Homo sapiens: one gene and its partner. The protein of the gene in region 2 interacts with the protein of the main gene of each other region in a biochemical or structural test. Each region holds a gene or a part of one and is shown on either strand. Other genes may lie near its edges. The genes, in order: CRKL and GAB2.

Region 1 (11,729 bases), on a different chromosome or scaffold from region 2:
TTCCAGCTGGGCGTGGTGACTGGCTCATGCCTGTAATCCCAGCACATTAGGGGGCCGAGGCAATTGGATCACCTGAGGTCAGGAGTTTGAGACCAGCCTGGTCCAATATGGTGAAACCCCATCTCTACTAAAAATACAAAAATTAGCCGGGCATGGTGGTGGGCGCCTGTAATCGCAGCTACTCAGGAGACTGAGGCAGGAGAATCACTTGAACCCGGGAGGTGGAGACTGCAGTGAACCGAGATCATGCCACTGCACTTCAGCCTGGGCGACAGAGCGACACTGTCTCAAAAAAAAAAAAAAAAAATTCAATTCCAAGATGAGCTAAGTACTTCTCTAGTGAAACTGCTTTAACCACCATTCTTTTTTTTTTTTTTTTTTTTTTTTTGAGACGGAGTCTTGCTCTGTCACCCAAGCTGGAGTGCAGTGGTGCGATCTTGGCTCACTGCAATCTCTGCCTCCCAGGTTCAAGCCATTCTCCTGCCTCAGCCTCCCGAGTAGCTGGGACTATAGGCGCACGCCACCATGCCTGGCTAATTTTTTATATTTTAGTAGAGACAGGGTTTCACTGTGTTGGCCAGGCTGGTCTCGAACGCATGAGCTCAGGCAATCCACCTGCCTCCGCCTCCCAAGGTGCTAGGATTACAGGCGTGAGCCACCATGTCCAGCCAGTAACCACCATTCTTTATCACTGACCAGCATTTAATGCCCAGGTCCCCTCCCTTCTGTCCCTGGGCTTTCAGGCCATCACTAATGGCTCCTCCTCCTATGCTTGTGGCTGCCTCTCCTTCCGCAGCTTCTCTTTCTCTACTTATTCCTGTTCTGCCTCCTCATTCTGGGTGATCCCATCTAAGCTGCGATTCCCAAATCTATATGTATTCAGCCCTTACCTCTCTTCTCAATAACAAACCCATCAGATTGCTAAATACCACCTGGCTTCCAGCAGGTACCTCAAAGAAAGATTCTTCCTGTTGAAAAGAATCACGCACCCACCCTAATCCCTTTCTCTTGTCTCAAAGGCACCACTCAATCCTCTCTGAAGTCATCATACCTCTCCCCTCACCTTCTATGTGCCACTTTACATTCCTATGGCATTTGATCTTGGCTCAGCTTCTCAGGGTCCCTCTCCAGTAACAGAGAATTAGTCCTTCAGATCTTTCCCCACCCAGAGCAGTTTCTCAAAAGTAAAACTCATCAGTTCTCCTTTTAAAATCTGACAGTTCTCTTTTTAAAAACTTTAGATGGCTCCCATTGTTAAGCTCATTTACAAGGCTGAGGAGGCCCTTTACAAGTTGGCTTTATCTTTCCTTCCTAGGTTCCTGCCCATCATCTACATTAATTATAACTGTGTCTTTACCAGCAAGCACTGCCACCATCTCTTCTACCACCACCTCTTCTACCTCGTATACTTGTTCTCATCCTTAAAGAATCAGTTGAAGAGCATCTCCTCTTTCAAGCCTCTCCCCACCTCTTAGGTACAGTTGATTGCCTTTGCTTTTAAGCTGTCATGGCATTCTAATTTTTTCAATAGACCAAAGCTTCTCAAAGACAAAAATCAAAAACAAAAACATGGTTTACTTCCATTAGATTCCAAGAGTCTAGCAGTGAGCTTTGGTATATTGTAGGCCTCTATATATCAAAGAACTTCCCTTTCCTATTTCCCTCCTTTTTTGTTTCTGAAAGCACAAAAGCTCAGGTATTCAAATTACCTAACTCTGGTTTAATACTGTCACAAAACTGGTGTGACAGAATTCGAATACCGTTGAGTGTGCACCTTCAAAGCCTCTTCTCATCCTCTTCCACTGTTCTTGTCACGTTCATTCCAGGTGAGTTGCTATGTGCCTGGTGGCCCCACCCAACTTGTTATGATTTTAGCTCAGATTCAACTCAAGTTAATCTGAACTCCCAACTAATAGGCTGTGCCCCCTTTTACTTATCTGAAAGAATTAAAATAATGTTTTTTGTTTGTTTGTTTTTTGTTTTCCGAGACGAAGTCTCGCTCTGTTGACCAGACTGGAGTGCAGTGGCGCTGGCGCAATCTCGGCTCACTGTCATCTCTGCCTCCCAGGTTCAGTCTCGAACTCCCGACCTGCCAGACCTCCCAAAGTGCTGGGATTACAGTCGTGAGCCACCACGCCCGGCCCAGAATTAAAATATTTTAATCTTAAAGACCCTCAGAAATCTAGTCTAATCATTCAGATCAAAAGGAAAAATTTAGGTCACAATTCTGTGGATTTGAGTTTTAAAAGTCACAAATCGAATGGCTACTAGTACTTTCCATGGGAACACAACTCTTTTTTTTTTTTTTTTTTTGAGACGGAGTCTCGCTCTGTTGGCAGGCTGGAGTGCAGTGGTGTGATCTTGGCTCAGTGCAACCTCTGCCTCCCAGGTTCAAGCGATTCTCCTGTCTCAACCTCCGGAGTAGCTGGGACTACAGATGCATGCCACCACGCCCAGCTAGTTTTTGTATTTTTAGTAGAGACGGGGTTTCACTATGTTGGCCAGGATGGTCTTGATCTCCTGACCTCATGATCCGCCCGCCTAAGCCTCCCACAGTGCTGGGATTACAGGCGTGAGCCACCACATCCGGCTGGGAACACAACTCTTAATTGGACAAGATTCCATTCTCAGCATGACAGTGTTCTTGTTTTTTGTTTTTTTGGAGAGAGTCTCACTCTGTCGCCCAGGATGGAGTCCAGCTGCACGACCTCGACTCACTTTAACTTCCACCCCCCAGGTTCAAGTGATTCTCCTGCCTTTAGCCTCTTAGGCACACGCCGCCATGCCCAGCTAATTTTTTGTATTTTAGTAGAGACAGGGTTTCACCGTGTTGCCCAGGCTGGTCTCAAACTCCTGCACTCAGGCAATCCACCCACCTTGGCCTCCCAAAGTGCTGGGATTACAGGCGTGAGCCACTGCACCTGGCCATGTTCTTGTATTTTTCTCTGAATCAAATTCACATGATTTTAACTACTGGTCAGGAGAAACGCAAAGGGGTTTATTCACAGAGTTGAATTCTATGCTGATTAAAATTACTGGCAATCCTTTCCCCATTCCAAATTATGGAAGTCTAGATTTGAGTTCTTAAATAATTAGAACAGGGGATGTAAAGAGGAGGCACAACCATGCTTCTTGTTTCCTCCTGTCCCTTCAGGGATTGGCTTCTACTTCACAGGTGTGTGAGGCTCCTCTTCTGGGCTCTCAGGTTAGACTAAGCACCCTTTCTCAGTTCTCCCACAGCTGTTTCACCATGCATGGAGATTAAATATATTAAATATATACAACTTACATTCATTCATTCATTCATTTTTTGAGACAAGGTCTGGCTCTGTTGCCCAGGCTGAAGTGCAGTGGCATGATCATAGCTCACTGTAGCCTCGACCTCCCATGCTCAAGCAATCTTTCCACTTCAGCCTCCCAAGTAGCTGGGACTTAAAGGCGCATGACACCATGCTCAGCTAATTTTTTAATTTTTTGTGGGAATGGGGTCTCACTATCTTGCCAGGGCTGGTCTCAAACTCCTGGGATCTAGCGATCCTCCTGCCTTAACCTCCCGAAGTGCTGGGATTACAGGCACGAGCCACCGAGCACAGCCAACCTTTACATTTTTTTTTTTTTTAGTAGCCAGGCGCGGTGACTTACGCCTGTAATCCCAGCACTTTGGGAGGCCGAGGCGAGCAGATCCCCTGAGGTCAAGAGACAGAAAACCATCCTGCTCAACATGGTGAAACCCCATCTCTACTAAAAATACACAAATTAGCCAGGTGTGGTAGCGCGTGCGCCTGTAGTCCCAGCTACTTGGGAGGCTGAGGCAGGAGAATCACTTGAACCTAGGAGGTGGAGGTTGCAGTGAGCCAAGATTGCACCACCACACTCCAGCCTGGCAACAGAGCAAGACTCTGTCTCAAAAAAAAAAAAAAAAATGCCAGGCGCGGTGGCTCATAACTGTAATCCCAGCACTTTGGGAGGCCCAGGCGGGCGGTTCACGAGGTCAGGAGATCGAGACCATCCTGGCTAACACGGTGAAACCCCGTCTCTACTAAAAATACAAAAAGTTACCCGGGCATGGTGGCGGGCACCTGTAGTCCCAGCTAACTCAAGAGGCTGAGGCAGGAGAATGGCGTGAACCCAGGAGGCGGAGCTTGCAGTGAGCCAAGATCCCGCCACTGCACTCCAGCCTGGGCGACAGAACAAGACTCCGTCTCAAAAAAAAAAAAATTTTTTTTTTAGTAACCAGTAAGCTCCTCAGAAGCATGATAGGGCTGTCTGATTCAATGTTGGTTCCATATTACCAGGTACATGTAATGCTCAAAGTCTGCTGAGTACAGTACATTATTTTCTTGAAGGGCCAACTTCCTTTAGTTTTTAATGGTAAAATTTTATTTATTCTAATTTTTCTTCATAGCCTGAATTTATCTATCGACACAAGCTAGAAATGGAAAATGTCAAACAAAGCAAGCTACCTTCTGAAGCATTCTGTTGTTAAACTGGAAACAGCCCTTATTAAATAAAAATACACTAGAGCTAGGCCAGGCGCAGTGGCTCACACCTGTAATCCCAGCACTTTGGGAGGCCCAGGCAGGTGGATCACTTGAGGTCAAGAGTTCAAGACCAGCCTGGCCAACATGGTGAAACCCTGTCTCTACCAAAAATACAAAAATTAGCCAGGTGTGGCAGTGCATGCCTGTAATCCCAGCTACTAGGGAGGCTGAGGCAGGAGAATCTTAAACCCCAGAGGCGGAGGTGGCAGTGAGCCCAGATTATGCCACTTCACTACAGCCTGGGGGACAGAGGGAGACTTGGTCTCAAAAAAATAAATAAAATAAAATCCACCATAGGAATACCACAAATACAAAAAGCAGTTAAAGATAAAAACACAGAAGATAACAAAGTTACAAATAGACCAAATCATCCCTTCTTCCCTTTCCCTTCATCCCCACCCACCAGCAAATCAATTTTATCTCCAAAATAGGCATCTCCAAGTCACAGCTCCACTGTCACTATTAGTCACCATCATTTTGTAGCTGGATTACAATAACAGCCCCAGGTCACTCCTCTGCCTCAAATTCCTTCCTTGGAGCCCACAGCACTTTAAATAAAAACCCAATTCCTGACCCTGATCTTTATCTCCAAACTCATTTTATATGTCCCCCTTTCTCCTTTAAGAAACACACTCCCAGGCCGGAGAGGGTGGCTCACATCTGTAATCCCAGCACTTTGGGAGGCTGAGGCAGGTGGATCATGAGGTCAAGATATAGGGACCATCCTGGCCAACATGGTGAAACCTTGTCTCTACTAAAAATACAAAAATTAGCCGGACATGGTGGCGGGTGCCTGTAGTCCCATGCAGTCCCAGCTACTCAGGAGGCTGAGGTAGGAGAATCACTTGAACCTGGGAGGCAGAGGTTGCAGTGAGCCGAGATTGGGCCACTGCACTCTAGCCTGGCCACAGAGTGAGACGTCATCTACCAAAAAAAAAAAAAAAAAAAAAAAGCCGGGCGCAGTGGCTCACACTTGTAATTCCAGCACTTTGGGAGGCCGAGGCGGGCGGATCACTAGGTTAGGAGATCGAGACTATCCTGGCTAACATGGTGAAACCCCGTCTCCACTAAAAATACAAAAAATTTGCCCGGCATGGTTGCAGGCGCCTGTAGTCCCAGCTACTCGGGAGGCTGAGGCAGGAGAATGGTGTGAACCCAGGAGGCGGAGCTTGCAGTGAGCCGAGATCGCACACTCCAGCCTGGGCGACAGAGCAAGACTCCGTCTCAAGAAAAAAAAAAAGAAAAAAGAAAGAAAGAAAAGAAACACACTCCCAACACAATGGACTTTCTCACCTCAGGACATCTACATAAGCTTTTCCCTAAACTTGGAAGGCTCTTCTCCTCCTCTCAGGCCAAGCCTTGCCTAGGCTGGGTTCTTCTTTACCCTCAGGTCTTAGCTTCATGCTTTCTCTGACCACGCCACCCCAGGTAGGTCCCTCCTGTATATTGATCTTACTAGTACTTTATTTTTCTACTTTTCAGTCTGTCTTCTCCACTACAGTAGGAGTTCCACAGGAAGAAAGTATGTCTGTCACACATCTTTCCCAGTACCTACACTGGGTTACACTGGGTTATAATTCTCTTATAAACATTTGAATAAAAATATAAAATTAAAAATTATGAAGCATTCTAATGAAAAGGATAAGACTATAACAATGCAAGCCACCAGTCCTTAAATTTCGAGTAGGACATTATTGTTACAAATTTTAGCTATGCAAGATAAACCAAAATATTAGCCAAGAGGCATGAAACTCTGGCTTTAAAAGCTCAGTTTTGATGCCTGCAAAGTTAAGCCACTAAATGTACCCTGTTTGGGATGCGAAGAAGCATTACACTGAGTTTTCCGTTTGGCCCAGGCTCTAGTAGTCACTAGCTTTCTATAAAAGGCTAATAACATGTTAAACCTAAGCCATGAAAACCAGGCTTGGGAGTGGCAATTCGAAGATTCAGTATAACAAAGTAAACTCAGTCAGGATCTAATTCAACCAGCATGGTGATCTCCTTCAGAGATACCTAGGAAAATGAAAAACTAAATTAAAGCAACAGGCCTGAGGCAGAGGGCACAGAGAAGGAGAAACAAAGCTGAACGTGAGGGGTAGGGTCAGAGAAAGGCCCTATAATCTGTGAGGGGACTGGAACAACAGGTAGGATTTCAACAGATGGAGAGTGAGGTGTAGTTAAGGCAGTCAGTGAAGAGCCAACAGCTGGAGCAAAGGTGCAAAGGTACAAAGGTATGAGTAAGGAAGGATGGCTACCAGGGAATAAGTGAGCAGCCTAGTACAGCTGCAGTAAAGGAAGGACGAAAGAGGGCAAAGACAGAATTACATGCTTGTTCTCTAAGAAGATGCATGCATGTACGGAAAATCTGGAGGCGATTCTGTGGATAGAGAGAAGCGGCATACTTCTTTTCCTTCCTCTAGAAGGAGACTCAAGTCATTAACTTTTTCCTTTTTTTTTTTTGAGACAGAGTCTCACTCTGTCACCCGGGCTGTGCAGTGGCGCGATCTCGGCTCACTGCAACCTCCGCCTCCCGGGTTCGAGCGATTCTCCTGCCTCAGCCTCCCGAGTAGCTGGGATTACAGGCACCCACCACTACGCCCAGCTAATTTTTTGTATTTTTAGCAGAGACGGGGTTTCACCATGTTGGCCAAGATGGTCTTGAACTCCTGACCTCGTGATTCGCCCGGCTTGGCTTCCCAAAGTGCTGGGATTACTGGCGTGAGCTACCACACCCGCCCATTAACTTGCTTTTTGAAACAGCTGTATTATTAGTACTCATGACCTCAACATAAGCATATGCATGGCTTAATGAATGCCTGGTATTAATTATATAATTCACGCTCACAAACGAGAGGAAGAATTTATTCAGTCATATTACAAATCTCACTACAGTGGGTTCTAAGATTCTCAACTCCTTAAATTGGAATTATATTGTGCTCAAAGTTGACTGCAACTACCAGCATCTGCCAGGAACCGCAGGTTTCACCAATCAGATTCTTGGTGTCCTGGTCTTTGTTATACAGTATTTGATTTATAATCACTTTCTCCCCACTTTTAAAGTCCATTTAGTTCAGTAGTTAATCTTGTAGTCATTATACTGTCATGGCTTTTTTTTTTCTATCTCTATCCCACTATGCAAACAGTTGGTGTCCTCAATTATAATAGCTTTTAATGTTTAAAGTTTAGAGTAATACCCGGTCGACAAATCCATAAAGTCATAAACATCTAACCCTGGAAAAACTGTATCAACACCCAGTCCTTTTAAAATAGATGTTTAAGAAACGAACTGGCCAGTTTGTTACTTTAAAAATTCTAGGCAACTTTTCAACTCAAATTTGGGATAATTTAAATAAAAGAAACCTCTGATAAAATCAGTGTTACAGGGCAAACACAACAATAAAAGCAAATCTCTGCTAAAACGCTTAAGGCAAATTAAAGCAACTAATCAATTAAAATAACGTATTTCACTTGGAAAAGAGAATGCTTGGTCACTTTGCGTTAATTTTAAAATAAGAAATACAAAATCATTAGACTTAACACAAAAAGCATGTCTGAAATTGAACTAGGATACAACTAAGTGTCATTCAAAAATTTTCCTTAATAACATTCTAGCCTAATTCCACCTTGGAAATTAACCAGACTGATCTCTGGCCTACTAATGGTCCTCGGGGAGAAAATATGCAATAAATTTTCCAAAAAATATCCTCGCTGAAGCCAATGCACCTTCTCTTATCTTTGTAATTAACGTACTATAAAAGTGGTGGTGTCTGGCCTGCTTCAAACTTGGCACCACAGTATCAATATACAGTTCTGATATTTTGGTTAAAGGTTTTTTTGTTTCTAAACGCTAAAGCATTTTCATTTTTTTGACTGTTCCAAAGGCTGCAGTCCTGGAGTTCTTAACCTGGAGTTCAGAGATCTGGAGGGAGTACAAGCACCCGGGATGGTGTGCAAACTTGTGTGTACGTGCCTTTGGCGGGGAGGGGTGGGGGTGGGGGTGGGGGTGGGGTGGTGAGTGCTCGGCTATCTTCAGATTCTCAAAGAAGTCTATGGCTTAAAAACGGTTTTTGGCCGGGTGTGGTGGCTCACGCCTGTAATCCCAGCATTTTGGGAGACCGAGGCAGGCGGATCACGAGGGCAAGAGATCGAGACCATCCAGGCCAACATGGTGAAACACCGTCTCTACTAAAAATACAAAAATTAGCTGGGTGTGGTGGCGTGAGCCAGTAGTCCCAGCTACTCGGGAGGCTAAGGCAGGAGAATCGCTTGAACCCGGGAGGCGGAGGTTGCAGTGAGCCGAGATCGCACCACTGCACTCCAGCCTGGCGACACAGCGAGACTCCGTCTCAAAAAAAAAAAAAAAAAAGAGGTTTTTAGAAAAACCAACAAATCCCTGCATCAGTATTACACCCAGAGAAAGTCACGAAAGGCAAAAAGCGTGCATTTTAACTATGCAACCACCGTTAAACATTCAAAACGCATCCTCTTCACATTGAGAAACAGCCTCGTGAGAGGGAAAAAAAAAAAACGCATCCTCTTATCCAGTGACCCAGATCCTGACACTAGCTTTCTGTTAGGAAGGCCTTCTGGAAAATAATTTGGTTCAGAATGCGGGGAATATGGGTTCAAGCGCGCCCCACCCCCCTATACAAGCACTCTTCGACAGACCCGGTTCTCGACCTTCCTCCGCGGTCGGGGAGGGCTCTCGCGTACCTGGGCGCAGGCTCGATGAGGGTGGTGGTGTCCAGGTAGTGGATCTTGTAAAACTCCAGCAGGGCCGGCAAATGGTCAAATTCCTGGTCCCCGATCTTAAAACGGCGGTTGGGCAGCGAGTTGATGATGTAGTGGGAGACCCGCGAGTTCTCGGACACCGACAGCACATAGTCCCCAGGGCAGGTGGAAGAATCGCGGACGAGGAACATACCGTGGCGCTGGCCCTGGAGCCGGGTCTGCGCCTCCTGGCGAGACACCGGCCCCATATACCAGGCGGAGCGGTCCGAGGAGTCGAACCTGGCGGAGGACATGGTGTTGGACCGGGGACTCTGCGGCGGTAGGGGCGGCGGCTGTCCTCGCCTGCTCTGCACGCCTTAGCCCGGCAGACGGCTTTGGGGCCGAGGAAGGGCCTCTCGCACACCTCGAGGAGCGCTCAGAGGGCTGGGCCAGCACTTTCCTCTCGGCTCCGGGCCCGCAGCATCCTCCGACGCCGCCCGCCTGCTCCGGGGCCGCCACACGGAGAGAGCCGCCCGGGAATGCACGGCAGAGCCGGGGGGTCGGGGCAGGCAAACCCGAGCCGCAGCGGAGGCCACCCCGGGGTTCTCGGGCTGCTCGGCGTCCCAGGGGTGCCTCCAGTGACTCCCGGCCTGGAACGCGCCGGCGCCGCAGCTCGACGGGTCTTCACCGACCCCCGCCGTCACACGAGGCACCGAACTCGAAGGAGCGTCGCGCCTCCGGGGTGCTTTTGCCCAGCTTGTTCCCAATAGCCACAGCAACAAAATGGCGGACGCGGGAGAAGCGGCAGCCACCTCCCCCTCCGCTCAGCGCGCTCCGTCTGCGCACGCGCTGGGCCCCGGCTCCCGGCGGCCGCCGGGGCCCTCCCGTTACGTCACACAGCGCAGCCAATCAGGAGCACCGTCGCGACGATCAGGGTGGGCGCTGGTCGCGCCCGCTCCCGCGTTCCAGGAGGAGGCTGAAGAGGCGCCGGCGGTAGGCACTCTCTTCCTGGGCCGCTGCGCGCCGCTGGGGGCGCTGCGGCTGCCGGGTCTCCCAGCGCTGGCAGGAAAACAGCTGGAGCCGAGAGGGAACCGCGTTTCGAAAACCTGCTTCTGGGAACAAAGCGTAACGTGCAGGCTGAATCGCGGGCCAGGGAGGCGTGGCACTGAGGCGACCTGGCCAGCCTAGGGGCCTGAGGGAGGTCAAGGACTGACAGGTCCCGATGGGCCGAGGTGGCCCAGTAAAAGGATGAGCCCAGGGGCAGATGTGACCACCAGATAGGTGACTGACTGAATGACTCAGTCCCCAGGTGGCCTGATAGGCTAAGGAAGCCCTAGTGGCTACGTGACCCGCTAAATGGAGTGAGAGGAGAGAGAAGGTGAGGGTTAGATTGACTCAATTAAGTGGTCAAGGAAGTCCACAAGTGGGTAACCTGGCTATCATGGGCTCTGAACTGCTGAAAGTAAAATACAAATGCCTCTCGGGCGTGGCCCCGAGGCTTCCCCTGCCCCGGATTATGCCTGCTTCTGCCTATTTATTAATCCCTATTTGTTTTTGTTTGTTTTCTTTCTTTCTTTCTTTCTTTCTTTCTTTCTTTCTTTCTTTCTTTCTTTTCTTTTTTCTTTTCTTTTCTTTCTCTCTCTCTCTCTCTTCCTTTCCTTTCCCTTTCCCTTTCCTTTCCCTTTCCCTTTCCTTTCCTTCTTTCGACGGAGTCTCGCTCTGTCACCAGGTTGGAGTGCAGGGGCGCGATCTCGGCTCACTGCAACCTCCGCCTCCCGGGTTCAAGCGATTCTCCTGCCTCAGCCTCCCGAGTAGCTGGGATTACAGCTGTCCGCCGCCATGCCCTGCTAATTTTTGTATTTTTAGTAGAAACGGGGTTTCACCATGTTGGCCAGGCTGGTCTCAAACTCCTGACCTCAGGTGATCTGCCTGCCTCAGCTTCCCAAAGTGCTAGGATTACAGGCGTGAGCCACCGTGCCCAGCCTGTTTGTTTTATTTTGTTTGTTTTTGAGACAGGTTCTCCTTCTGTCACCCAGGCTGGAGTGCAGTGGAACTATCATGGCTCACTGCAGCCTTGATTTCCCCATCTCAAGGGATCCTCCCACCTCAGCCTTCCGAGTAGTTGGGACTACAGGCTCGCGCTGCCATGCCCAGCTAATTTTTTTGATTTTTTTTTTTTTTTTTTTTTTTTTGAGACGGAGTCTCGCTCTGTCGCCCAGGCTGGAGTGCAGTGGCGGGATCTCGGCTCACTGCAAGCTCCGCCTCCCGGGTTCACGCCATTCTCCTGCCTCAGCCTCCCAAGTAGCTGGGACTACAGGCGCCCGCCACTACGCCCGGCTAATTTTTTGTATTTTTAGTAGAGACGGGGTTTCACCGTTTTAGCCGGGATGGTCTCGATCTCCTGACCTCGTGATCCGCCCGCCTCGGCCTCCCAAAGTGCTGGGATTACAGGCGTGAGCCACCGCGCCCGGCCTTTGA
Region 2 (12,726 bases):
TAAAATACTCAAATTCTTGAAGACATTTGACCAAAGAGGATATACAGATGGCAAATAATCATATGAAAAGATGTTCAACATCATTAGCCATAAGGGAAATGTAAATGAGAACTAACGGGTGAATGGTTAAATAAACAGACTGTGTGGTACATCCATACCATGAAATACTACTTAGCAATAAAAAACAATAACTATTGATGCATGAAATGAGGATGAATCTCCAGAGAATTATGCTGAATAAAAAAAAGTTCAAAATCTTAAGTACTGCATGAATCCATTTAAATAACACACATGAAATATCAGAGAACAGATTAGTAGTTGTCACAGATTAAGGATGTGGTAGGGGTGGGATGGTAGTGAATACGATTATAAAAGGGCAACATAAAAAATCCTATCATGATGGAAATGCTCTGTATCTTGACTGTATCATTGTCAATATACTGTTGTGATACTGTACTATAATTTTGCAAGATGTTACCATTAAGGAAAACTGGATAATGGCTACATAAATCTTTGTTTACTATTTCTTACAACTAGATGTGCATGTAGAATTACCTCAAAATGAAATGTTTAATTTTTTTAAAAAGCCCAGGCTTTAGGACAAAGCTAGATGACTTTGGGTAAGTTGCTTCCCTTATTATAGGGCTAAATTACTACATTAAAAGATCAATGGTCTAAGCATAGTGCCTGGTACAAAGTAAGTGCTCAACAGATGGCTACTAAAATAATCCTAAAAGTCATGGCAGTGGGGATGAAGAAGCGTATAACAAGATATTTAGATGATACCACTAATGGGTTTTGGTGACAGATTAGATGTGGGATAGTGGGTGACGGGGAGTCAAAGATGATGCCCAAGTTTCTCATCTGAGCAAGTAGGTGCTTAGTGGCACTGTTTACTGAGCAGATGTGGAGTGAAGAGATGAACAAAGAAGAGTTTAGTTTTGGAAGTGGTGAGTTTGTGTTGACTGGGAAACATTCAAATAGAGATGCCCAGTTAACAGTTGGATATGTAAGTCTGAAGTTCAGAACACAACTCTGAGATGGAAATTTAACTTGATGACCACCATGCAAATGATAACTGAAGCCAGTAGAATGGACAAGGTTGCCAAAGGGGAGAAACCACACAGCCACTATGACTATAAAGGAGCTTCAACCTTTAAGGACTGGATAAAAGGGTCAGTCTAGCAAAGGAAATATAGAGTAGCCAGAAAAGGAGAAATAACAGGCATTTATAGTGTCAGCCAAGATAAGAGGAAGGTGTTTTAAAAAAGAGTGGTCAACTATGACCAAGCAGTGAAGAGATTAATTAAAATGAGGAGTAAAAAATCATCCTCTGAGTTTAGTGACCTGGGTATCGCTGGTGCCTTTGTCAGAATAGCTTTGGTGAATAACAAAGTAGGTTTCCACTGGAGCCGACTGAGAAGAAGGTGGGAGAAAGGAAGACTGCATAAACCACCACCAAGTTTATCCCTGAAAAAAAGTAGGTAGTACAGAGAGGGAAAGAAGTTGAAGATGTGTTACAGGATAAGAATTATTTGAGTAGGGAGGAGAAGATATGATTCAAAGTATAAGTAGCAGGATTAGCTCAGATAGAAGTGGCACTTCATCTACTCTAAGAAAAGGAAACAAGAAAGGAACCATGCAGGCTGGGCGCGGTGGCTCATGTCTGTCTGTAATCCCAGCACTGTGGGAGGCCGAGGCGGGTGGATCACCTGAGGTCAGGAGTTCAAGACCAGCCTCACCAACGTGGTCAAGCCTCATCTCTACTAAAAATACAAAATTAGCCAGGTGTGGTGATGCATGCCTGTAATCCCAGCTACTTGGGAGGCTGAGGCAGGAGAATCGCTTGAACCCAGGAGGCAAAGGTTGCAGTGAGCCCAGATCGTGCATTGCACTCCAGCCTAGGCAACAAAAGTGAAACTCTGTCTCAAAAAAAAAAAAAAAAAAAAGGAAGAAAGAAAGGAACTATGCAGATACAAGTAAATTTGAAAATGTGGCCATTCATCGTACGTACAGACAACTACTCCCTCATCATTTCAATTTTCCTTTGAAGGAGAAGGCAAAGCCATTGCTAAGACTGAAAGACTGGATTAATTTTTTTTTCTGTTTACTGGATTTTTATTCCAAGCACCTGATCCAGTGCCTGGGACATAGATTTAATAAGTATATTTAATAAATATAATGGAAATAAACAATTACTGTTACCTTAATGCAGTAGTTCTTTACAATTTGTGCACAACTTTCTTCAAGTTAGCCACTAGGGGGTAGTCTGCCAATCTTATTCCCTCAATCTTTTAATCCAGTGAAATTGATAGAAAACTACAATGCAGTGTAGGTCATATTAATAAAATGTTTTTCCTCAAGAAAATTCTGTTTAATAATTATATACATGTACGTGTGTATGCATTTGCATGCACGCGCATACACACACAAATACACTGAGGCACGATGGGAGGGTTGTTACTTCTGCCGGCCTCCCACTGCAGCCATATCAGGATGCCCCAGAGGCAATAGTCAGCATTTTCCAGAGACACTTTTTGCAATTTCTCCAGGGCACTCAGTAAATAGCAGATAGGTCTCTTATACTTATACTTAATTAACTAGAAAAGGCTGATGAAAAAAATCCCTGAAAACTAATTGCTCAAACATTTGCCTTTGCTTCTTCTAAGATGTTTTTCCCCTCTACACCTTCCCGTCTTTCCGAATTAAGTAAGTTTTTTTGTTTTTCTTTGAAATGGAGTCTCGTTTTGTCACCCAGGCTGGAGTGCAGTGGTACGATCTCGGCTCACTGCAACCTCAGCCTCCCGGGCTCACGCGATTCTCATGTCTCAGCCTCCTGAGTAGCTGGGACTACAGATGCCCTCCATGACGCCCAGCTAATTTTTATATTTATGGTAGAGACGGGGTTTCACCACATTGGCCAGGCTGGTCTCGAACTTCTGACCTCCAGTGATCCACCCGCCTCAGCCTCCCAAAGTGCTGGGATTACAGGCATAAGCCACTGCGCCCAGACTTCAAATTAAGTCAGTTTTTTAAAAAATCGTTTTAAATAGTTATAACCTAGTTCAACTACTTTTTCCCCTTATCACATATGCTCGATGTATTCTTATAATGAGGATTTCTCAATCTACAATATAACACGCCTATGATGTATACCAGAAGCAGCAGCTACTTTGGGGTAAATATACAGCCATGGGGCTGGGAAATACTTTCCAAGCTTGGTTCTAATGAACTCGGGCCTCTACTGAAATAAGCAAACTAGCAGAGTTTTAACTTACAACAGGATGCAAAAATTCTGAATACCCCAAAAGAAAAGTAGATGTAAAGGCATACTGTTCCCCAGAGGCTTAAGGTTACACATATCACCAGTTTCAGTTAGGGGGAAACTGAACTTCCGAAGGGGCAGAGGCTTCCAGTCATGTAAGTGAACACATCACATCCTAACCTAAGAAAAGCTGTTACTTAAAGCTGTTAAGGTCTGACACCTGATGGGCTGAAGGTACATGGAAGATGGGAAAGAGAGGCTAAGGCCATCATACGACTAGATTCGTTCAAATCAGTGAAAAAGGTGCTTGACCCAAATGCCTCCAAACCTGGTTATTTTGAACTAAAGTTGTTTGGGAACAAAAACACCCAAGAAATGGGTCATAGAGTCTGGGTGAGAGTTCAAGGAGCGATAAGTCAAATGTAGATACAGTGTCATACTGTTTGCAAATTGTTTCAAAAACAACTTTCAAGGTTCTTTAGTGTATAGTGTTCAAACTTGAAAATTAAGGGTCACTTTTTTTTTTTTTTTTTTTACTGTGGACACTGTATTCCACTAGCTTGTATGGAAATCTATTTGTATAGATAATTTTTGGAAGCTCTTCGGGACAAAGTTTTTAAATTATTTATAAAATTGTTAATAGTAAATCACTGCTCCTTAATCCTAATTAAAATATTCAACCTTCCTAACGAACTGATACAACCCTGAAGAGGAAAAAAGTTTATTTCTTAATAATTATACTTTGGCTACATAGACACTCCTAAAAATGAGCTTCCGAACTGAGATGAACAATTCACTGCTTCATTCCTCCTATAAATCCACGTCCACTTTCAAAACTCATGTGCTAAATCCTTAGATTTTTTTCCCCCAGCAAACATCTACCTAAGAGCCTGATTTCATTGACACACACTTGTACTCCGCAACAACAACACTTCCTTTGAAAAACAGAATGTCACTTCCTCAGTCCAGAGGCCAGAAGTCCCTTGATTCTGATCTGGGGAGCCAAGACAGGAAATTCTGGTAGGCTTCTGCCTCTCCCCCCATGGACAGCCACTGGTGCAGCTGACAGAGGGCAGGGTCTATTCCGAGCTCCCTTGATGCACTGCAGCTGGAGGCAACGGCTCCCTTCCAGGCTGTGGGAGTGATCCCGGAGTTCGGCACCACAGCCCGTTAAACAAGGGCATTTCATGGGAAACGGAGAGGGAGCAGATGAGAGACCTTGAAACCTTCCAGCAACCTTACCCCCACTTCCAAACTCCCGCGACTACCCCAAGACCATTTCGGCCAAATCTCAGTAACTGGCACCATCTTGTACTTTGACCTCACCAGGCAAGGCATCCTCTGGGGAGAGGGGTTAAAAAAAAAAAAAAAAAAAGCCAGAACTCCACGGCTCAGCGCCACGCTGTTCCACCTCCCCCAGGCTGCCAGTTCCCCACCTAGAGGGAAAAGGCTGTTCCAGCGATCTCAGTAAACACTGTCGGTTGGCAACACCTGGCCGCGGAGAGCCTCGATCTCTCCCGACCCCAGACACCCGGGAGCTGCCCGGTCCCAAACCCGGGCCAGCCACGGGGACCAAACTGCAGTGTCACACCGGGGTCGGGGGGAGGCGCCTGTGAGAGACGAACGGAATAAAGGGAAAGAAGGGGGACAAACAAATGAGTCACTTAATACAAGGGCTGCACATGCCGCTGACGCTGCCGGTGATGCAGCCGCGGACGGAGGGAGGCCGGCGGCCGGGAGGGGCAGGCGGAGAAAGGGAAGGAGAGGGCGTGAGGCGCTCGCCCTTTGTGGGGCCGTCCGCGCGGCCCCACAGCCTACGCCCCCCTTTCCCGCCCTCTCCCCGACCCTGCGGGCTGAAGCTGCTCGGGGCTGCCGCGGAGCCCCAGCCCCGAGAGTCAACTCTCTCGGTCTCCAGAAGCCATCAATACAAAACTTCGACACTGTATTTAGTTCACGAGCAGACCGGCTTGGGAGGCGCCGCAGCCGCACCCGCCTGGCGGAGCAGGAGCCGCAGCCTCAACCTGCCGCCCGCCCCGCCCCTCGGCGGCCCACCTGTGACAGGTGTGCAGGTGCCCCACACGCCCCCGGCCGCTCCTCGCCCCCGGCCCCCCGCGGCTCCGGGCCCGAGCTCCCCAGCCTGCCGCCCCTCCGGGAGTCCCCCGCCCCTCCGCAGGCCCCGGAGCGCCCCCCGCCCGCCCCTGGGCGGCCGCGCCCGCACTCACATAGCGCCTCAACTTCTTCTCGGGAGGCGATTTCCTCAGCCAGCCGGTGCACACCACGTCGCCGCCGCCGCTCATGCTGCCGGCCTGGAGCCCCCCGCCGGGTCGCGCGGACGAGGGCGCGGGCTCGGGCAGCTGGGGCAGCGGCCGGCGGTGCGCAGCTCGCGGGAGGCCAGGGGCGGGGCGGGCGGCCCGGCGGGGACTAGGCGGCGCGGCGCGGCGCGAGCCCGGCAGCCTCGCGCGCGCCCGCTCCCCCGCCCCGAGCGCGCGCAATCCGCACTCTCCGCCCGGCCGCCGGGGGAGCAGCTGCAGCAGGAAGGCCGGCTCGCTCGCCACGCCCGCTCCCGCCGCGCCCCCGAGGCCGCCGCGCACGCGGACGCGGGGCTAGGGACCCGCGAGGATACAGAAAGCCACCGCCGCCGGCGCGCCCCGGAGTCTCGCTTTCTCCTGAGGCCCCAAGCCGCGGGCGCGGAGGCCAGGGAGGCGACCGCGCCCCTGGCGCTGGCGGGTGTGAGGGGAAGGGACTGCGCGCCCTCGGTCGTCGATCGATTTTTCACCGAGCGTCGACGGGGAAGGGATACTAGGGCTGCTCACATTTCCGATACATTCTGCGGGTCAGGTTCCGGCTGAAAGGAGGGACCCCTTCCCAGCAAGAAGCTCCTTAACTCTGGCGTCCCTCGGCGGGAGGAGGAGACGGACCTACTACGCGCCGGAGCCTTTGCTTTTGTAGCTTACAGGATTGTCTTCAGTATTGTTCCTATTTTATGGACAGCCTAAGGGCAAGGGCTTGTACAAAGCCGAGCCAATTTTCCAATTCAGGTGTGTGGGGGAGGAGGGGTCCCGGTCATCTGCTATTCAAAATGAGGGCATTGCCTTAATGGGATCGACCTGGGAGCCTCTCATTGCCTGGAAACCAAGTCCAGCTGACTCCCTCCTACACTGCCTCTGGGAAAACACAGTTTAGTATAGAAAATTCGCATGATTTGTAGAATGGAAGAAGCAAAACTAGTCAATGTATTTCATAACGAATTGGAAGGCAAGGTCAAGTGCAGAAGAACAAGAAATTGGGGTCCAAATTCCCCAACGTTCCCGCTCATTGACACAGGCTATGAGACCTCTGTTTGTAAATATAATGGTATCCCAGATGTACGTGGAAGCACACAACCCCAGCACTTCAGCGGGAGGGGGGAGAAAAAAATCTTTTGTACGAGCTCTTTTCTCATCACAAAGTGTCTCTCTAAGCAGCATTAAAAGGCAGGTCCTCCCTAACTTCTCTGATAAGTGGATAGTAACCTGTTTATTCAATGGGGAACCGTGCTGTGTGGACAGATGAATTGGAGAAGCAGCATCTTGCAGTGCCCCACACAACCTCAGACTAAAGCTGTTTTGTTTATTTCTGTCTCTGTGCAGCTGAGTTGTTTCAAGCAGTTGGACATCATTTGGTCCAAAAGATCTTGATTGGGTTGGGGGAAGTTCACCCTCCTCAATTTGGAAAAGCGAATCCCCTACCACGTACTTAGCTCTTCTAGATACCCTGGGAGTTTTAGCGGTCAGTCCCCTGGATCTAACATTTCACTGACTTTCTTCAATATCCAGTGTGCTGCTGGATGGGAAGTAAAGCCAGAACTGGTAGGCTGGGACCACAGCTCCCTTAACCTTACAATTTAGGGATCCTTAAGTCACGTATGAAGGGCCACCACCAGAATGATGGCCATTTTAACTTCTGGCTTTAAGTACCTTAAATCCCTGTAAGACAAACAACACTTAACGTCTGCCAAATCAATCAGGAGGCGGTGACTTCCAACCAAAATAAAACTATCCTGACTTCATTCACATCTGAGTCATGGTGCCAAGTCCCAGAGATTGCAGAGTCGGAGAAATCTGCATGGTTTGGCTGCAGCTGAGGTTTGTGATGCAAGTCAGGCATACGTATGCCCTATCTTCCCCCAGAAGAGTAGTCTTACGTATCCTTTGATAGTTACATGATTCAATACACAGACTGGAAGACTGTTTAGCAAGAGTTAGTGGGGGTTAGGTCATATTCTGCCAGAAATTCCTTAAAGTCTTATTTTGTTTGCTTAGGAAAAGATGGTGTTATTTACAATTTCATGTGGAAATGGAAAAGTTTGATGTTTCTTGTTTGGCCAATGGCAGGAGGGACCTTGAAATATGAATACAACAGTCACCAGGTATCGACTTTGGGAAGGGTTCTCTGAACACCCCCATCTTTCCCCAAAGGTTAAAGAAAGGAGCTTTTTTTTTTTTTTTTAGACGGAGTCTCGCTCTGTTGCCCAGGCTAGAGTGCAGTGGCGTGATCTCCGCTCACTGCCAGCTCCGCCTCCCAGGTTCACGCCATTCTCCTGCCTCAGCCTCCCTAGTAGCTGGTACTACAGGCGCCCGTCACCACGCCCAGCTAATGTTTTGTATTTTTTTTTAGTAGAGACGGGGTTTCACCATGTTAGCCAGGATGGTCTCGATCTCCTGACCTCGTAATCCGCCTGCCTCGGCTTCCCAAAGTGCTGGGATTACAGGCGTGAGCCCGGCCGAAAGGGGCTTTTTTACTGTGCTCTTCAGCTGGACTCCCACCCTGCGTCCCTCTTGCTGCTAGTGCCCATCTCGGGCTGTGCATAGGAAGCAAGACTGCTGCTCAAGTCCCTGGCTGCACCCTGGAGTGGCTCAGTCTTTTGAGCCTGAGAGGCGTGCCAGGCCTGGAAACAACCCTTGGACGGAAAGTTCCTGTCTGGGCTTTTACTAAGTCCTCTCCACTCCCTGCTGTGTGTGTCTGTTTAAATGGTCCCCGGTTTTTGCTGGGAAAAAAATGGAAAACAAATCATTTGAATGATTTACATGAAGATAGGCGCCATCTATCGGAACCAGTTGGGGTGACAATCCCCCCACCCCCAAGCCCTGAGCGGACATGCATCACTAGCCCATAATTTAGGCAATTTTGTTTAAAGACCACTGGTATTTCCTGGGGGAATTAATCGCCGGCTCCAAGAGTGCTTTGGGTCATTAATCTTATATTCTTATTAAATTCTCAGGAAATGACTATCTTATGAGGAGGGAGCACTGCAGAGATTAGAGAAATGCACACTGGGAGAGCATGGGTACCACTTTGGCCCCCGCTCATAGCTACTCCCACTCCCCACAAAGCCTGGGGTTCTAAAGGGTGCACTGTGGCTTTGAGTGTCGTCAGGGACATCCGTCGCTGCATCCGTGCCTGTCTGGGAGTTGAGGGTTTGTGGCCAGCGGCAGGTGCATGGCTGGTGGAATGCTTTCAGAAACGGGTTGAAGGGCTGGAAGGAGAGCTGTCCTCAACTGCACACCAAGCTTGTGTGATTAATACCACCCACGCCAGGCCTGACGTCAGTGATTGGACTGGGGGTGGGGATGGATGTTTGTGTGCTAGCCCTTCTGCTTTTTCTCCCCTTCAATTTAGTTGACAGGTTAATTTCAGAACTGAGTGCTGCTTACGAAGGTCAGTGTGACCAGCTGAACCACCTCAGCTGGTGTCTTTCAGGACACTCATCTCTCAGGCATATAAAGGTGTATGCTTCTTTAACCCCTAGTTACTTGAGGCCCACATGGTTCCCTATATCAAATTACCTTAACTTACTCAAGTCAACTCTGGGCATCTGGTTGAGGATGAGATCTGGAAGTGGGAATGGGGTGGGGTTAAAGACCTAATTGGGTTTCCTCCCTGTCTGTGGCTAATAGTCTGAGAGTTACTTGACACTATACCCAGTGGGAGACATTTTGAAAATAAACTTTTGGCCGGGTGCGGTGCCTCATGCCTGCAATGCCAACACTTTGGGACACTGAGGCGGGTGAATCACTTGAGGTCAGGAGTTTGAGACCAGCCTGGCCAACATGGTGAAACCCCAACTCTACTAAAAATACAAAAATTAGCTGGGTGTGGTGGCGGGCACCTGTAATCCCAGCTACTTGGGAGGCTGAGGCAGGAGAATTGCTGGAACCTGGGAGGTGGAGGTTGCAATGAGCTGAGATCGCACCATTGCACTCTAGCCTGGGCGACAAGAGTGAGACTCTGTCTCAAAAAACAAACAAACAAACAAAAAAAAACTTTCTTAGAGAAAAGCTTGAGCAATCCCATTTTCCCAATTTCTCCTTTGAAAATAACCAGAATCAGTGCTAATGGCTCTGTGGCAGTTAGGCTCCCACGACTTTGCTGCTGACACTGGTAAATCAGTTGTCATAATCCACCAAGAACAAAGACTGTCAAGATCCTTGAGAAAGTGCTGTAGTCTTCCAAACCACACTCTGCAATGCTGGCTCCTTTTATTTGCTCTGCAGAGAGAACTCCTACCTTGAATTAGATCTTGAACATACGTCAAGACCTCTTTCCCTAAAACTGACTGTCCCCATTCTCCAGCAAAGTTGTTCACTCTTTTCTTGGTATCCACACTGCACTTATATAAATTGGATTATCACACTGTACAGCAAATATTTCCTTGTCGAGGAATTGTGAGTTCCTTGAAGACATGAATGTGTTTTTCTCACTTATTATTTTTTTAGAGACAATGTCTTGCTATGTTGCCCAGAGTGGTCTCAAACTCCTGGGCTCAAGTGATCTTCCTGCCTTGGTGTCCCAAAGTTCTGGGATTACAGGCATGAGCTACCACATCTGGCCCTTCCTCATTTTTGTATTCCCAGAGCTTCCCAGCATGGTACCAGCACAGAATAGATGCTCATTAAATGTTCATTGTGAGAATGAAGGAACCAACCCTTAAAGGATGACAGGTTGGGGCTGTAGACTACTGGAACATCTAGAACTCTCTGATCCATACAAACCAGAGAATAGTATTTGTGAAGGTACCTATAAGTGGCTGGAGTGGTTTTTTTTAATAAAAATTGTCAGATAACATCGATGTGTTTATTATGTACAATATGATGTTTTGAAATATAAATACAAATACATAAAATACACTGTGGGATGGTTAAATCTAGCTAACTAACAAATGCATTAACTAATATAGTTATCATTTTTGTGGTAAGAACACTTAACATCCACTTTCTTTACATTGCGTTTAAACCCACAGGGACGGCCTAGCTGGAAGGACTTAGCAGGCTGAGGTAATCCTGTGCAGTTCCACTTTTAAAAATGGTTGTAACTCGACATAGAAAGGAACGAGATCATGTCCTTTGCAGGGACATGGATGGAGCTGGAAGGCGTTATCCTCATCAAACTAACACAGGAACAGAAAACCAAACACCGCATGTTCTCACTTATAAGTGGGAGCTGAACAACGAGAACACAGGACACAGGGAGGGAAACACACACTGGGACCTGTGAGTGGGTAGGGGGTTGGGGGAGGGAGAGCATTAGGAAAAATAGCTAATGCTTGCTGAGCTTAATACCTTGGTCATGGGTTGATAGGTGCAGCACACCACCATAGCACACATTTACCTATGTAACAAACCTGCACATCCTGCACATGTACCCTGGAACTTAAATTAAAAAAAAAAGAAAAATTCCAGAAACATGTGAGAAAATAAGATTCCCCCGAAATCTTAAAAACAAAAACAAAAACAAAAAAACATGGCTGTAACTCTTGGATAGTTTCAGAAAACAATGACTCCTTTTAACCTTTTAACTGGTACCCCCAGATTCCAGAGAACCAACTTTGTCAACCCTTGGTTTCCAAACTCTGACACTGTTGTACACTCTTTACACACCCTCCTTTGTGGGACTACAGAATTAAATCTCTTTGCGGTTACTCTGTTATCTGGCTTCACTGTGACAATCCTACAGGGGTTTAGCACTTAACCCCTTGTACCAGATGCAACACTAGTGAAGCTGGAGAAAACCATGTCCCCTGAACTCAAAGTGGCTTTATTCAACAGATGACCAGAAACGTCATTTCCTTCTGCACCTGATAAATTGCATAGTAACTGTGCAGGCTTGCTAGTCTTTGTTTTGCTGGGAACCTAGAGGCCTCAGGATTTCACCTCATCTAACTATATAATTCTACCAGAATTACCCAAGATGATTGTCCGACAATATAGCCAATGATGTGCTGGCAAATATTTTAAAATTGGCTCCCTGGTGGTGTTGGTGGGTGCCTTGATTTACAGTATATGCCAACTGTTGTGGCATAAATACTCTGCCAGCCATGGCCAGTTTTAAGCTATCAAGTTAATGTCCTTGAATACAGAGTTAAGAGATACACAGTAATACACCATTATTTAGTATTTCCAACATAAAGACACAATAGACATAAATAACACCAAGAACACAATAGTAAAATGTAATTAGCCAAGTGATGAGTTTGGGGTAGTTACTACCTTTCTTTTTAATATAACTTATTTAATTATAAGTTTATATAACTTAATTTTTAATTAAGATATTCACGTATCACAAAAGTCACCATGTTAAAGTTTATAATTCATGGTTTCTAATATATTCATCAACTTTGACAACCACCACAGCTATCTAATTCCAGAACATTTTCATTACCCCAAAAGAAACACCATATCCATTAGCAACTCTCCATTCCCCCAATCCCATCAGCTGGCAACCGCTAACCTACTTTTCATCTCTATGGATTTGCCAATTCTAGACATTTCACATAACCATATTCATACAATATGTGACCTGTGTGTCTAACCTCTTTCGCTTTGTATAATGTTTTCAAGTTTCATCCATGTTGAAGCACTTGACAGTTCTTTATATACCGCATTTTATCCATTCATCAGCTGATGAACATTACAGTTGTTTCCACTTTTTGGCTATTATGAATAATGCTGTTGCGATCATTCCTGTACAAGTTTTTGTGTGGACATACGTTTTCAATCTACGTATTTATCTAGGAGTGAAAATGCTGAGTCATATGGTGACACTGTTTAACTTTTTAAGGAACTGCTGACCTTTTTTCCACAGTGGCTACACCATTTTACATTCCCATCAGCAATGTATGAGGGTTCCAATCTGTCCACATCTTTTCCAATGCTTATTTCCCTTTTTTTATTACAACTTAATTTTAACGATGTTCTACTTTAACAACCATCTTGCAAAATTCTTCACAATTGAACAGTCTACTCTCCTGGGTTGATACCACTGCACACAGCCACCAAAGAAAATCTCACCACCATCTCACTAGTCAGTTCCACTTCTTTTTGCTGGCAAGAGCAATACTCAACAGATTTGAATTTCCTTCCTCTTACATCCTTCCTATAGAAAACTGAAACAAAAGATCTCAGGTTCCCTTCTCTTTGGTAATT

What was found.
Region 1: the proteins of GAB2 (region 2) and CRKL interact in a test that uses a peptide from one of them, tested with the Homo sapiens proteins (one study listed by BioGRID).

The regions. Positions count from the first base shown.
Region 1 is NC_000022.11:20,915,771-20,927,499, reverse strand, and holds the start of CRKL (crk-like protein), read right to left. Parts: upstream 10,094-11,729; 5' UTR 9,566-10,093; coding exon 9,255-9,565; intron 1-9,254. UniProt on the Homo sapiens protein: May mediate the transduction of intracellular signals.
Region 2 is NC_000011.10:78,412,159-78,424,884, forward strand, and holds the start of GAB2 (GRB2-associated-binding protein 2), read right to left. Parts: upstream 5,663-12,726; 5' UTR 5,563-5,662; coding exon 5,488-5,562; intron 1-5,487. UniProt on the Homo sapiens protein: Adapter protein which acts downstream of several membrane receptors including cytokine, antigen, hormone, cell matrix and growth factor receptors to regulate multiple signaling pathways.